2 separate regions of the Homo sapiens genome follow, and region 2 is linked to region 1. The links come from fine-mapping of genetic effects on gene expression. Tissue or cell type: skeletal muscle. Region 1 holds a variant in brackets; the other region holds the start of a gene. All regions are shown on one strand. Distances are from middle to middle.

Region 1 (8,141 bases):
GGTCTGTTTCAGCTCAGGCCACTAAGCTCAAAGCTACCCACAAAAAAAAAAAATTAAACCAGGGCAACACAAAGTACTTCTGAGTCCTGTAATTACCAAAAAGATAGTCAATGTGGGGGAAGGGGAAACTAACTAACTATTAAGACCAGAGGTTATAATATAAAGAAATTGTTCCACCTTGTAGATTGGTGTCATCAGATTCCTGAGAAATCTTTACTAAAATGAATTGTAAAAATAACTACCTGAAGAACAGTATCTTCTATTTTAAATGCTACTGAATGAAAGAGCATGTTTTTGTTGATGAAGAACTCACACCTCGCTATTAAACATTTGCTGATGAATATATGTGATCCAAACTCAGAGGAGGCTATTCCTGAGGGAATGCCCAGCCTGGTCTTATTGTGGACATGTGTGAGATGAACACTGGTGTGAGAGATGGTCACTCTCCACCAGAACTGTCCTCATGCGTGCTGCATTGCAGAGAAGGTACACATGACAGTTGGCCTCAGAGTGGTGGGTGGGCCTGCCTTTTGGACCCCAGAGCAACAGCTGGTGCAACTCAGCTCCTGTGCCCCATGGGCTCAGCTGCCAGCCACCCTTCCTGGGCTACGTTTTTTTTTTTTAACTAGAAACCCCTCATTCAAGCATGCATAAAAAATTGTCTAATACTGAAATACTAGAAACTAATTCAAAAACATTTAAACTCTGCCTGCACCAACAGTAGACATTCACTTGCTATGTAAACTTGGGTCAGTTTTCTTTTCTTTCTTTTTTTTTTTTTTTTGAGACGGAATCTCGCTCTGTCACCCAGGGTGGAGTGCAGTGGCACGATCTTGGCTCACTGCAACCTCCGCCTCCTGGGTGATTCTCTTGCCTCAGCCGCCTGAGTAGCTGGGACTACAGGTGCGTGCGACCACACCTGGCTAATTTTTTGTATTTTTAGTAGAGATGGGGGTTTCACCATGTTAGCCAGGATAGTCTCGATCTCCTGACCTTGTGATCCAACTGCCTTGGCCTCCCAAAGTGCTGGGATTACAGGTGTGAGCTACTGCGCCCAGACAATTTGAGGCAGTTTTCTAATCTCTACTAGTCTTAGATTCCTCATTTATAAAATTAAAATAATAATGTAAAATATTGTGTGCATGCATAGTGTTACACCCAATAACTAGAAAAATACTGATAGGCACAGGATGCAGAGAAATTCTAGGCAGAAAAGGACAGGGTCTCTGGCAATGGTCCCACCTTCCAGCCTGGAACTGCTGCCCAAAGAGAGAACTTTACATCTCTGTTTTTCCCACTCAAATGATGCCTTTTTAAAAACCATCCATGGCCTGCCTCTACCCCACATCCTGTGCCCCTGACCTGACTGGCAGAGGGCAGAGAGAAGGAGGGAAGAGAAAAAGCAGCCAGACATCGAAGAGCAGCAGCTTGACTTTTGAGGGATGGCTTGACAGCAGGACTTCAGAGAAGAGTCTGCCTGGAGATGGCCAGACTCCAGGGGAAGATCACCTTCCTGCCCCATCCCCCTTTCAGCTCCCCTTCCCACTGCAAGCTGCTTTCATCAGCAATAAAATCCTCTGCATTCACCACCATTCGATTTGTTCGTGCAACCTCATTCCTCCTGGACATCAGACAAGGACTTGGGTGTGGGTGCAAAAGGCTGTCACACTGATCTTCTACTGAGCTGTTAACACTTAAGCCATCTGCAGACAGCAAAGATAAAACAGCACACTGTAACGTATGCCCTTTTAGGCTTCAAGGTTCGTGGGTACATACCCCCTAGATGTTACCACCAGGGTGCATGGAGTTTTGGTCCTGTCAGTGTCCAAAAGTGCTTGCTGCAGCTTTTGCACCTGCTCACCTGCACGCTCCCTCTCCCACAGGGGGTTGAGAGCTGTAGGCCAAGTAAATGAGGCACCCCTGTCTCGAGGCCCGTGAAGTGGTCGAGGAAAATTTTGCATTTCATCTGGGGGCTTTCCCAGGGTACGTTGCAAGGGTGAGTAAATGCAGATTTGCCCTATCTGTTTCTTTCTGTCTTCAGACTTTCCTCTGAACTAAGCACTTGAAGGGGACAGGAAGCAACTGTACCCTCTCTCTGTTTCTTTCAGGTGAAAGGAATGTTGGCTCTGTTTCCCCTCATGAAAGTGGAGCCATTGCATGGGACTGGAATAAAGTTCTGGGGCAACTGAAGGCATCTGGCCAATGCCACTCCTTGGTGCTGCCAGAAGGCCACATGACTGAACCTGGTCCCCAACCACCTGTTAAGGTTCAGCCAAGACCCCCAGACTTTTCTATGGTATCTTTCCTTCCTTCTTTCATGGTTTGAAATGGCTCCTATCTCTTCTTTTATAGTGTTAAGGGTTTTGCTGCAAACTGCTGACATGTTACTAAGTACAGTGAGAGACTGGCCCAGCCATCAGGTAGCAATTCAGATCAATATGATTTCCGTCTGTTTTTAGCAGTTCCATCCCCACTCCACCCCCACAGTTGCAGGTACATGCTGTGCACAGTGGCTCCCCTCCCGGCTGGAGGGCCTGGGCATGTCCACTGCATGCATGTGTCGTGCCCAGTGGCCAAGCCAGGTGAGAGTGGGAGTGAGCTATGCATGACACCCGGGCCCCAGGGCAGCCTCAGGGGCCAGGGACCCTGTACAGCCAGCTGGCCAGTGCTTCCTGCTCGCCATCCCCTCCTGCCATACACCCACAGAGCCTTTCTTCCCCTGGCCAAGGAGTTCAGCTTGGTCCAAACTGGGGGAGAGATGCAGTGATTAAAGGAACCCGTTTGCAGAAAGCAAGAGTTCCCCCCTCTTAAACCTCTTTTTTCTTTCCTTTTCAATGCGAGAGGGTTCTTCTCCTACCTCAACACTCTGCTTATAACAGGGAGGCAACAAAGGAGTGACACCACCGACTATGAACTGCAAGTTTGGCAAAACCAGTGTGAGAATTAATCTAAATGGACCCACGCATCCCCTGAGACACCTTTTTGGCCCAAATTTGATTCCAAGCTTCTAGTTGAAGCCCTAGAAGGAAAACCAGATTGGAGAAATCCAAGGCAAGGTAACAGGCACAGTATAAATGGGCAGGACTATTTCCTGATGATTAAGCCCCTGCTTCATGGGAGGAGGCCATGCTCCATGGCATAGATGGGGCCCAGGTAACCCAAAGGTTGCTGACAGTAGGAGGGATGAAGGCATAGGTGAGTGTAGACAACTCCTACTCTCTAGGCCCTCCCTGCCTAATGGGTGCTGGCCGCAATGGCACCCACGGATGGTGTCCATCTAAGGTCACTGAGTCTTGGGGATAAAAAAAAAAAAACAGAAGAGAAAAGGGGGATGTCCACATTCTCTCTCCCTCACACCCCAAGTTTTTGCTGAAAGGAGCAAAGGAAACGAGGGACACCTATCTCCCTATCTTTGAGAATGGGCAACCAGCTATCTTCATCACCCCCCGTCTATACTCCCTGGAGTGGATCCTCAATCACTGAGACTGCTTTGACCCTCAGACTCTGGAGGAAAAATTCCTCATAGCCTTCTGCACATAGATTTGGCTGAATTATGATCTGTGGGAAGGGCTAGCTTGGCCTCAGGAAGGAAGCATTCATTTCAATACCAACCTACAGTTAGACCTTTTCTGTAAACCTGAGGATGACAAGTGGTCTGAGGCCCCATACGTGCAGGCTTTCTATACCTTGCAGGGTAATCCAGACCTTTGCTGACAGTTTAGGACTGACCCAGCCCTTCTGTTTGCCATCTCAGGAGAGGCTGCAAGGGGCAATCCCAGGGAACTAAAGAAATTAACCCTAGAGGCCCCTCCAGCAGAGGAGCCAGCTCCCTCTGGCCCTGTTCTTCTGGTCCACCCCATCCTCCCTATCCAGCTTCTCTCTCTCAATTGCCCCCACCTAGAAATCCTCACCCTAGATAAGCCCCAGTCTCACTCTTGCCCTTCCAACAGATGCCTGGCGAGTTTGGCCCCAGTAAGTTCCAGGTCCCCTCTCTCTACAGGACTGAAGGCAAATGAAGGGGGATCTGGCAAGTTTTAAGATGACCCTGACAGATATATAGAGGCTTTCCAGAATTTAACCTCAGTATTTGAACACTTCTGGAAAGACATTATGTTACTTTTGAATCAAACCCTGACTAACAGTGGAGAAGCAGACTGCTCTGCAAGTGGTAAAGGAATTTGGGGAAGAGCTTTGTATCACATGTAGTGCCAGGGAAGGAGTCAAACTTTATCCAAATGGAAGAGAAGCAGTACCAGTGGATGACCCTAAATGGCATCCCAAAGGCCTGATGGGAGAATGGAAGAGGAGATACTTTCAAGTGTGTATAATGGAGGGCTTACATAGTACTAGGACCAAGCCTCTCAATTATAGCAACCTATCTATGAGAGACAAGATATTTGACGAGAATCCCACTACCTTCCTGGGAAAGGCTAAGAGAGGCCTTGGTAAAGTACCTCTCTATCTACTGATTCAGTTGAGAGGCAACTAATCCTAAAAGATAAATTTATTATTTAGGCGGCCCCTGATATTAGGAGAAAGCTGTGAAACAGGCCCTTGGACCAGATAGTACTTTAGAAAACCTCCTGAAAGTGGCCACCTCAGTCTTTTATAATAGAGATAGGGAGGCCCAGGAGAGAGAGAGAGGAAACACAGGAAAGAGGCAGAGGACTTAATGGTCACCATGCAAGCCCACAAACCCCAGAACTCCCAAGGTGCACCTGTTAACTGCTACAGATGTGGTAAGCTGGGGCATTTTAAGG[A/T]TTGCCTAGGCAGCATGAGGAAGCCACTCCAACCCTGTCCAATCTGCAATGGGGACCACTGGAAGGTTGACTGTCCCCAGGGACACTGGTCACTGGATCCAGAACCAATCTCCCAAATGGTCCAGCAGCAGAACTGATGGGTCCTGGGGCTCCTCTCCCCAGCTCCAGTGGTCCAGACCACCATTACCATCCAGGAGCCCTAGGTAATTCTGGAATTCGAAGAGAGGAAAGTGGACTTCCTTTTGGACACTGGGGCTGGTCTCTTGGTTCTCCTCTCCAATCCAGACCCCCTCTCCTCCATTAGCACAACCATGAGGGGTGTCTCAGGAAAGCCTTTAACCCATTTTTTTTCCAAGCTCTTAGTTGTAGTTGGGGAGATCTCTTGTTCACCCGTGACTTTCTAATTGCCTGAAAGCCCAACTCCTCTGTTGAGCAGGGATATTCTGGCCCATATTGGGACCACCATTCTGATGGCCCAGGACAAACTCTTTGTCTCCCCCTAGAGGAAACCAATACTAACCCAGAAGTTTGAGCAATTCAAGGGAAGATTGGCCAAGCCACAACCACCATACCTGTGTGGGCCCACCTTAAAGATCCCTCCTCCAATCATAACCAGAAACAATATCCCCTGAAATCAGAAGTTAGGAAAGGACTCGAAGCCGTCATTGATAACTTAAGTTTGCAGGGCCTCCTCAAACCCTGCAACATCCCTTGTAATATCCCCATACTGGGGGTACAAAAACCCAGCAGGGAATGGAGGCTACTTTGGGACCTCTGCCTCATTTCACCTGGTGGTTCCCAATGCATATACTCTGCTAGCTCAAATACCTGAGGGAACTAAATGGTTCAGAGTCATGGATCTAAAGGATGCCTTCTTCTGCATACCATTACACCCCAACTCTCAGTATTTATTTGCATTTGAGGATCCCTCTAACCAAATCACCCAGTTAACCTGGACAGTGTTACCTCAGGGATTCTGAGATGGCCCCCACTTGTTTGGACAGACACTGTCAAGGGACCTCTCTGAGTTCCTTTATCCTCAGGTTAAACTTTTATAATATGTAGATGACATTCTCCTCTGTGCTCTGAGGAAATCTCTCAGGAGGGCAGTAAGGCTCTTTTTAATTTTTGGCTAACAGAGGATATAAGGTTTAAAAAAATCTAAAGCTCAGTTCTGCCAGCTTCAGTGAAGTACCTAGGCCTGGTCTTGTCAGAGGGAACCAAAGCATTCAGTGAAAAAAGGATTAAGGCCATCTCTTCCTTTCCCCTCGCCACAACCTTCAAGCAACTAAGGGGATTCTTAGGCATTACAGCATTTTGCAGACTATGGATACCTGGGTATGGTGAAATAGCTCAGCCCTTATACCACCTAATAAAGGAGACTCAGACAGCTAAAACTCACTGTCTAATTTGGGAACCAGAGGCTAGAAAGGCCTTTGACCAACTAAAACAAGCCTTGCTTAAGGGAGCCCTTGGTCTCCCCATAGGGAAGATGTTCAATCTTTAGTGTTAGAAAGAAAAGGAATGGCACTGGGAGTTCTAACACGGGCCCACAGTCCAGCCCAGCAGCCTGTAGGCTACCTAAGTAAGGAGCTTGATTTGGTAGCTAAAAGATGGCCAGCCTGCCTCTGGGTGGTTTCAGCTGTAGCCTTGCTGGTATCAGCGGCTACTAAGTTAACCATGGGATATAACTTCACTGCTTACATTCCACATAATGTGGCAGGACTGCTGTCTTCTAAGAAGAGTCTCTGGCTAATGGACAACGATCTCCTCAGATATCAAGCTCTGCTATTAGAGGAATCTGCAGTCCAATTAAGAACCTGTCCCTTCCTAAATCCAGCCGACTTCCTCCCTCCCTTGAGGGAGAATCTCAAGGAAACTCCCTTAGAGAACCCAGACTGGATTCTCTTTAGGGACAGAAGTTGTTTTGTAGAACAAGGGACATATAAAGTAGGGTATGCAATAGTTACCCTGAGTGATACTGCTGAGAGCACACCTCTCTCCTCCGGCACAAGTGCTCAATTAGCCGAACTAATTGCCCTCATCGAGGGGCTTGCATTAAGCAAAGGGAAAGAAGTTAACATTTATACTGATTCTAAGTACAATTTCCTAATCCTCCATGCCCATGCCACTATCTGGAAAGAGAGAAACTTCCTCACAGCTAATGGGTCTCCCATTAAATGCCATTAGAAAATTAATAGACTATTATCCTTGGTTTTCCTCCCATGGGAAGTGACAGTAATACATTGTAAAGGCCACTGAAAAAGAATGGATGAAGTGGCTGAGGGAAATAGGTTGACAGACCAAGCAGCTAAATCAGCAGCAAGGGGGCCCCAGGTCTCTGACCCACTTGAAGGTCCACTCATCTGAGAGGGCCCAATCAGGGAAATAAAACCTCAATAGTCTGCTGCAGAAATAGAATGGGCCACCTCTCATGGATACACCGTTTAGTCTTCCAGGTGGCTACAATTGAAGGACAGCAAGTCTCATCTACTAGCTGCCAACCAACGGAAAGTTCTTAAAAGCCTTCCTCAGGCCTTCCACTAGGTAAGAAAAAAACCTAAATTGGTCCAGAGATTGTTCTCAGGTAAAAACCTGATACAAATGGTTAAACAAGCTGTTAATGCTTGTGAGGCTTGCCTTAAAAATAATCCTCTCAAGTGATGGCTTCTTCCCCCAGGAACCCAAAAGATAGGAGGCTACCCAGTGGAAGACTGGCAGATGGATTTCACCCACATGTCAAAGGCAAGGGGCATCCAATATCTCTCAGTATGGATAGATACCTTCACTAACTGGGTAGAAGCATTTCCATGTTGAACAGAGAAAGCCTCTGAGGTGATAAAAGTACTAATCAATAACATAATTCCTCATTTTAGACTTTCTAAGTACCTCCAGAGTAATAATGGCCCCTTGTTCAAGGTGGCTGTCACCCAGGGGGTCTCAAAGGCACTAGGCATACAGTACCATTTTCATTGTGCTTGGAGACCACAATTCTCAGGAAAGGTGAAAAAGACAAATGGTATTATCAAAAGGCACACCAGGAAACTGTCTCAGGAGACTTATGTCCACTGGACTACCCTTCTCTACATAGCCCTACTATGTATTAGAAACACCCCTTCAAAGCTGGGTGTAAGTGTCTTTGAAATGATGTATGGACAGCCTTTTCTCAGCAATGATTTCTTGCTAGACCAAGAAACTTCTGATTTTATTAAACACATTACTTTTTTAGCTCATTTCCAACAGGAACTAAAATATCTGTCAGAGGCCCAATCCCATGAACCAGAGCCACTTCTATTCAACCCAGGAGACCTGGTGCTGCTAAAGGTACTACCTTCCCTTTAATCTTCTCTAAGCTCAGATTGGAAGGAACCTTACACTACT
Region 2 (8,141 bases), 680 kb before region 1:
TGCACGTGTGCCCCCGAGTCTAAAATAAAAGCTGAAATTATTTTTTAAAAATTTGCCACAAAGTGCCTGAAAAGTATTATCATAAAAATTGTCCTCAGGCATCTTAAGAAGGAAGAAGAGGCCGGGCGCGGTGGCTCACGCCTGTAATCTCAGCACTTTGGGAGGCCGAGGTGGGCGGATCACGAGGTCAGGAGATGGAGACCATCCTGGCTAACACAGTGAAACCCCGTCTCTACTAAAAATACAAAAAATTAGCTGGGCGTGGTGGTGGGCGCCTGTAGTCCCAGCTACTCGGGAGGCTGAGGCAGGAGAATGGTGTGAACCCGGGAGGGAGAGCTTGCAGTGAGCCGAGATTGCACCACTGCACTCCAGCCTGGGCAACAGAGCAAGACTCCATCTCAAAAAAAAAAAAAAAAAAGAAGAAACTTGTTTAATTATTTTGTTGAGCACAAAGTCCAAATTCTCTGTTACTTAAATATATCAAAATAGGAAGAAAGCCATTGAGTCAGGCCCAAGGATCAAACACACAACTCCACTGTCCACTTTTCAACGTGGTGTGTCAACGCTGGCCTCATCCTGCAGCCGCGGTGACGGTGAGCCTCGGCGGTGCTCTGTTCTGATTTTGTCAACTCTGCCGATGTGGTTTCCTTTCTATATGGCTCACAGGTTTGTGAAGCTGCAGAACTTGGGCTAAAAACCTGGGATTGATGTGGGGATCCTGCATCATTTTTCCGTAGGTTGAAGGGAACAAGTTAAAAGGAAGATGCAAGTCATCAGAATGAACAAGCCAACAAGAGGACAGAGACTCCAGAAACCTGGGGAACTACAGATTCTCGGGTCCAGCCTGGGGGTAGTCTAAAAGGAAAATCACACAGAACTTACCTAAGAAAGTCCAGGTGAACGGTGAAAACTCCTGCTCCCATGATTAAGTAGAAACTAGGAGAAAACATTAATAAGTGACTGGCAGGTGACTGATGATGTGGGGTGATTCTCAGAGTATGAACAGTGACCTGAGTTCAGTCCCAGATGATACTCAGAGTGATGGCAGAGGGGATTTCTGGAAGTCACTGCATCAACAAAGAGATATTTGACTAAACTTATGCTTGGCATATTGAGATGGGAAAATAGCTGACAAAAAGTTTTCTGGCTAAACATGAATTAGCCAGAAATAATAACTAAATTATATCATTTCTATAATGAAAATAAAATCCTTTTGCAGTTTTAGCATAGTAAAATAAATAAAAAGGAAGCCAATACTCATGATAAAGCATTTTGCTAATGGCCTAAGAGGGAAAGTTAGTTTAGAAATGTGAAAACAGCTGGAGTCTTTGGTAATTAGTTTCTCTTGCTGTTCTTTATTGTAACTTTCATCAGTGACAGGCATTTAAATTCTGAATGCATAAGCCACATTTTAGAATGGGCCCTGCATCACTTTTTAATTAAAAAAAAAAACAAAAAAACCTACATTTCCAAGAGAGGGGAACTTCTTCCTGCATCCTAGAGGAACTCTCTGGAAAGTATAGAGCTGATCACTTCCTGTCTTAACTTTGAACTGAGTGAATTACTTTTCTATCCTTTCTAACATGACAGCTCTCTGGCATTCCTGCCAGTAATAACTTTCTTGGAGACTTACAAATAAAAGACAGACATAACTCTTTCCCAGTGTTTTAAATAAATGTATTGTTTTTCTCCATAAAAATGGAACCTGATTATCTCTCCAAACTCCATTTCTAGAATTTTGAGAAACTAAAATTTGGCATTCAGGACACATGAGCTCCTCCAGATTTGAAAGGGGTTTCAAAGGCTCCAAACCTGCCTCATCTGTCAGAGTTTTGGACAAATGCATTTCATTTATCTTCCTAGAGTTCCCAGAGGATTCTGGAGTTGCTACATGAAAGACGTGTTGGGATTCTTGAATACAAGGCACGGAGGGCCAAGGATTTTCTTCTGTTCTCCATATTGCCAGAGGAAGTGACATGGATTTGCCAGTATTGCAGGTTTTAACATCTGCATTCTGTTTATGATTTTGTTGCTTAGGAGATCTGGCTAAGACATTTGGCCCCTTTGACTTTTGTTCCTCATCTGTAGAATGGGAATAATTAAGTCTGCTTCTTGTCTGCCATTCTTGCAGCGGACGATGGTGGATAAATGAACATGCTTTCAAACTTTTGAGTTCTGACGAGCAGTACTCTCAACAAAGTGGAAAGTGAAAAACAGGTTCTTTAGTAGCAAATACTTCTTAAAGGAAGTATGTCAGCTTCGAGTGTAAATTTTATTCTTTGGATAATCTTAGAATTAGTGGTATGTAGTGTTTATTTTCTTTTTACTTTAATTTTCACTGCAGTTCCCTAACAGTGATTCCTATTTACTTAATCATTTGCAGCTGCTCTGCTCACCTGTTTTTCTGGACCCAGGAGCAGTCCCTCAAGAGTTTTATTATAATTTCCTTCTAAGTCCTTAAACCAGGAGGAATGTGTTTAAGTGCTTAATAGATTCCCTGGGCTTTGGAATTTTAAGGAGAATTCTGAGAGTAGCCCTCCTTCAGGAAAAGGTGCATTTCTTTCCCGTCTTTCCGTGGCCCGACGGACATCACTTTCCTGATAAAATTGTGTGGGAAAGGTTGCAATAGCATTGCCTTTGCCTCAGCAGCCAGTCCCAGAACTTGCTGATACAGCCCCCTCCCCCAAAGTTCATAGCCAAAGCAGTGGGCTAGACATCGGATGAAACCTCAGATTTGGATTTTCTGTGTTTTGTGCTTTTCCCAATGCCCCTGACAAGTCAATTGATTCATTGTTCTTGAACAAATCTTCACTCTTCTGGCTTTCTGTGTGAGACAGAATTAGGGCTTTTTCCTGTAAAGTTATAAGCCAAGGCTAAACTATGTCAGCAATGTTGTCTGCAGTGGATATTATCCAGAGTCTGGGTGTGCAAAAATTTCCTGGTTTCCAACGTAGTCTTCGTGGGTGAGTTTACAACCTCCACAAGCCCTGTGCTCCCCGCACAAACACCTGAAATGCTTTGACAGAGCTGTTTAAAAACAGCCACATGTGTCTGTGAATGATGCCCAACCACATGCTCCCCCGACTTGAGAGGATCAAGGCTACAGCCCAGGTCAGACCCCGGATCTTTAGGACCTAAATTCCCCCATCCCTGCAGTGGATAACCCCGTGTAAAGATGCCAAAGGCGGGCTGCCCCCGGCGCAGCCTTTCCTGGACATGTGTTCCCAGCTGCCTTTGCTGGAGCGCCGCTGATCCTTCAGCACCTCTGAGAGGCAATGTTCTGGGCTGGACCAGGGGGCCTTAGAGGGCAGAGGTCAAGGAGAACCCCGGAGTCTGGGGACCGGCCAAGGCTTGGCGTTAACCTTTGTGGATGAAAAGTCCCGCTGGGCTGATCCTGCGCGGACCGGGCCTGGACCCTGGGGCGTGAGGAGGGCGCGGTGCGTCCCGTGGTTGTGCTTGGAAGCCCCCCGAGGGTGCGCGCGCGTGGGTATGAGTGCGTGCGTGTGCCTGGGTGTGCGTGTGTGTAAGTGTGCACGTGTGTGTGTGAGAGTGCGCGCGGGGAAGGAGGCACAGAGACAGCCCGGACAGGCCACTGCGCAGCCCTGGTGGCCCCCGCTCCACCTCTCGCTCCGCAGACCCGCGCCAGGGAGGCCTCTGGGCCGCAGCGGGCACCGGAGCGGAGCGGGCGCGGCAGCGGGCGCTGGGAGGTGGGGCTGGGGGAGGAGAGGGGGAGGGAGAGAGGCGGGCGGGAGGGGAGGATCCGGGAAGCTCCGGGGTATTTGACAGGAGCGAGGGCGGACGCAAAGAACGCGGAGGACCTCTGGGTGCCTGCAGGGGAGCTGCTCCAGCCGGGCCGCCGGGAGCGGTGGGGAGAGCATCGCGGAGCCGCCCCTCCACGCGCCCGCCCAGCCGCGCTCGCCCACTGGGCTCTCCCGGCTGCAGTGCCAGGGCGCAGGACGCGGCCGATCTCCCGCTCCCGCCACCTCCGCCACCATGCTGCTCCCCCAGCTCTGCTGGCTGCCGCTGCTCGCTGGGCTGCTCCCGCCGGTGCCCGCTCAGAAGTTCTCGGCGCTCACGGTAAGCCCGGGCCCGCGGGACCTGGAGCTCAAGTGGTGCCGCCTCTTGCAGCCGGCCGGGTTCGGGTCCCCGCGCCCCGCTCCAGGCCCAGGCGCCTGGGCACGGGGAGCAGGTGGCCCCGGGGGCCGTGGAGCCTTCGCCTGCCGGCGAGGCTGGAGCAGGTAGGACGCAGCGTGCGCGCCTGGGACCCGGCTGGGATGGGCTTCTGGGGACCCTGCCCGCCGGGGTCCTGCTGCGGCTGCGACGGGCTCCTCGGGTTCCACCCGGCTGGGACCCCACCTGCCTCGGGGGCTCTGACCCGGCTGTGAGAGGATCCTGGGGTCCTGCAGACCCCGGACAAGTGGGAGCTGCGGGTGCGCTCGGGTGTCCCGCACTCACTGCTGGGCCTGAGCCTGTGGGGAACCAGGTCTGGGAGCGCCGGCGCCGCCCCGCGGACTGTCCCAAGGCCAAGACAGACCCGCCGGGACTGGGCGCCCACCTCGCCCACGGGGACCCGGCCTGGAGCGTGTTCTCCCGACCGCTTTGGGCTCGTGCGCCGCGCGGATCCCGGGCCTCTCGCCGGCTGAAGGGGCTGCCAGTCGTGGGCCCCACTCGTGGGTCTGACTCTCCCAGAGACCCTCGTAAGTGAGCCGAGGAAGAAGCAGATGAGGTTACAGATGATTCTTCACGGGCCTGAGTGTTATTAGAGAAGCGCTTTCTTCCCTTCTCAGGACAGAACTGGAGGCAGGCGGCGGCTCCCCGCTCTGCGGGGCCTCTGGGTTCTTCCTCGTGGCAGGGATGCTGCGCTCCTGAGCGCGAGGGTCACCGCGGTTGACCGCTGTGTGTTTTTCTTTCTGAGCTGTAACTTCTATGCGACAGCCTTGGCCCGGCCAACGCACGCGGTGTCAAACGAGGAGCTATGTAGAGGGGGCTGAGCCAAGCCCCCGCCGGCCAAGCCAACCCGCGGCGGCCGCTGGGCCAAGGCCGGGTGTCTGCAGCCCCCAGCTCCAGCCGTCCTCCTGGGCTTGCAGGGTTTGCAAACCCATCATTAATGCAATCGCCAGAAACGAAAACATTCCACTTAAATGTGTTTTTGAACAAGTGTTTGAGAAAACACGAAGGTAGTGAGAACGCCTCTGGTGGACAGCCGTCTTTTTTAAGTGGCCGGGGACTTGTCCTAAAGGTGTTTATTGTATTGAAAATAAAGATGGTTGAAATAAGCTGTGGTCGGTTCTGCCTTTCAGCAAATTTAAAACAGTCATGTGGGCATCTTTTCTTTTTCTTTTTCTTTTTCTTCGTCTTCTTTCTTTTGCGTTTTAGCAGTGTGAAGGATGGTTTGTGAGTTCATTGCTCATACCTCAAATTCTTCTGCAGCAGCCCGGGGTCCCTGCCTTGTGTCTCACAAATGACTTGTAGATTAGAAACTGCTAACTGGGGCTCCAAGGAGGTTTTCACACACTCAGGCTTTCCCTGAAGATCCTTTATCTCCCCAGAGGGGGCCCTCAGAGGATACTCACTGGAGGCATTCATGTATATGCACATCTGTACATGCATCTAGACATAAATATACTCACGTATACACTCACAAAAAGACCCCCCACATACTCTTAAAGCACACTAGAGGAGACAGAGAAACTAAGGCCAATTCTCCAAAGGAGATCATAGCATTTTCTTCCAGGACTGTAGCAGCAGGTACCTACAGTTGCCACGGATTTTCAGATTTTCTGAAAGCGCAAAAAGTAGAGACTGCCATCTGCCTGCTGCCCTGTGTGTGTGGGGGGTGGGGTTGGGCCTGTTGGTCCCCCCTGGAAGAGCAGAATCAAGGTAGTTAGTAATTAGAACAGTTTAAGACTCGGCAGGTTTTCTTGTCTTCTCTCCCCTGTCTCATCTAACTATTTACTTGAACCCTCTCACCTTTTGCCCCCTTGAGGTTGCCCCAAGGATGTCTTGGGTTGCGGTGAGACCCGCTGCATGTGGGGTCTCTGTGCAGGAGCTGATACCCCACGTGGGCTTTGCCCTGTTGGCTGCATTCCCCAAGAACAGTTTGCCTGAAATTTACATTTGCAAATAAAATCAGTATCCCGAAGAAAAGATTAAAGCCATAACACATTTTGGCACACTTCTTCTCACCCCACCCCCAGTCTAGAAAATCAAGAAGTAGTTGAGTTACAAAGTAACTGAGGCAGGCCTGAAATCTGACTGGTCGCTGGGAGATGTGAGATGTGCAGGATTTTTCAGTGTGCTCATCTCTTTTCAAATTGCCTTCTGGTTTTTGGAAATCTCTTTTGTCTCCGGAGGCCCTCATTCAAAGAAGGGCCTTCTCTCCCTACGATTTGCATCCTACCTACTTTAATAAATCAAGAGGCAGTATCAGTCCATGCAGTGGGTGGGACCCACAGCTTAGGGTCTTGCTGGATGTGTGACTTCAGGCAAGTTACTTAATTTCATAATCTTCAGTCCCCTTATCTGTAAAATGAGAATACATAATCTCTTTCAAGCATGTGGTGAGGATTAAAGGTAGGGCTTTTAATGCGCCTACTATATGTGAGTTCTCCAGCTAACATTGTTTTGATGGTGCCCATGCCGTGGGTCCGTATAAGAGAGTGCTATCAATTGATACCGTAATTATCAATGCATATAGCGTTGTGGCATTAAGGTGTGTGTGGATTCAACTTTGCAGTATTTTCACCTGCCGCAGATTCTCAGAGCACACCACTTGGCTCTGGGTGTATCTGTGGACTTTGTGGGAGTAGCCATGTGGGACTCTATAGACCAAGGAGGAAAGCTTGCCTCTCTGCCTCCTTCTACTCCATTCATTTCTTCTCATCTAGAAGCAGGGAAATATGTCAGCCTCTCTGGGGCTTTCAGTTTGCCATACCTGGCTTCTCAGGACCACGCATTTGTCTTACTCACCTATGGTGAGTGTGCTTTCTTGGTGGGTCCAGCATTGCTGGTGTGCTCACCTCTGCTACTTTATGTTTAAGATTCAGAGAATCCACTTTGTCTGGTAATGATCTCTCTTCTTTCCACCAAAGTCATTCTTTAGAAATGGCACCATGAGGCCCTCTGTGTCTCTCATTGTGACTTTCTGATGGCTTTGCACAACTTCCTGGTTATTGCTCAGACCCTCTCACCTCCAGTCAACAATGGCATTCTTAAGTGTGTCCAATGCGCTCTTAATTTGGATGCAGGTCAATTTCTTCCTTGAAGAAGGAGGTACATTGAATGCCACACCGTGCCCATTTTCCTTTTTATTTCTGTGAATGACTGAGATGAGGGAATGATCTCTAGTATAAATGGTTTTTATTACACATAATTCTGTTTTCAAAGAGCAAACAGGCGTGATCACAATTACTCAACTTTATCATGGTTGTCATTATATGAATTTTGATGGACTGATCCATAAGCCCATACCTAGGTGATTTCTTTAAAGGCAGAGAGAAGAACAATATTGCCTGGGACCCCTTTCCCAGAAGTTTTTGGTTAGAGCCAAAGTATTCATTCCCATGTTGACTAAATCATATTTTGCTCACACTTAGAATGTTGAAGTCACATTACCATCCTTCTCAGACTTCTCTTACTGCCAATACCTAACGCTCCCCTAAGGTCATACGCACGACTTCGTTAAAGGTACCGTTGTCTCCACATTCAAGAGATGAGGAAACTGAAGTTTTGAGAGACTCTGAAGGGCACCTGGTCACTAAGCAGATCCGAATATTTCTCAAGTCATCCTGCCATTATTTTTCTTTCTTCGTGGGAGTTCCCTGCACTGTTTTTTGCACTGTCTTCAGGAACTTTACAATTCCACACTGCCGTTTCACCTCTCAGACTGTAGTTGACTTTCATCCTGAATCCTCATCTTCTCACAGAGGGTCTGGCACCTGGTAAATGCCTCTTATTGGTCTTGTGGAATGCATGACCACAGACCTGAAACAGTTATTTCCCACTCCTATTTGTGTTTATTTGCTTTGAAAGAGAAGAAAGGTGATAAGAAAACAATATTTAGCCATGTGTAATTTTTTTAAAGTTTCATTAGCAAGTTCATGAGATGATTTAATATTGATTTTGCTGAAACAGCCAAAATA

What was found. PIP is the estimated chance that this variant, and not a neighbour inherited with it, causes the effect.
Region 2: SMOC2 starts here. The variant in region 1 is fine-mapped to the expression of SMOC2 in skeletal muscle (GTEx, PIP above 0.99).

The regions. Positions count from the first base shown.
Region 1 is chr6:169,115,949-169,124,089 of GRCh38, forward strand. No RefSeq gene overlaps it. Among named protein-coding and RNA genes, the nearest start is that of LINC01615, 43 kb to the right of the region's middle. The variant A/T (reference allele first, on the strand shown) is at 4,761.
Region 2 is chr6:168,437,378-168,445,518 of GRCh38, forward strand. It overlaps SMOC2 (SPARC related modular calcium binding 2), which reads left to right and starts at 3,807. Exons shown (of 13, transcript NM_001166412.2): 1 at 3,807-4,077. The coding sequence starts at 3,994.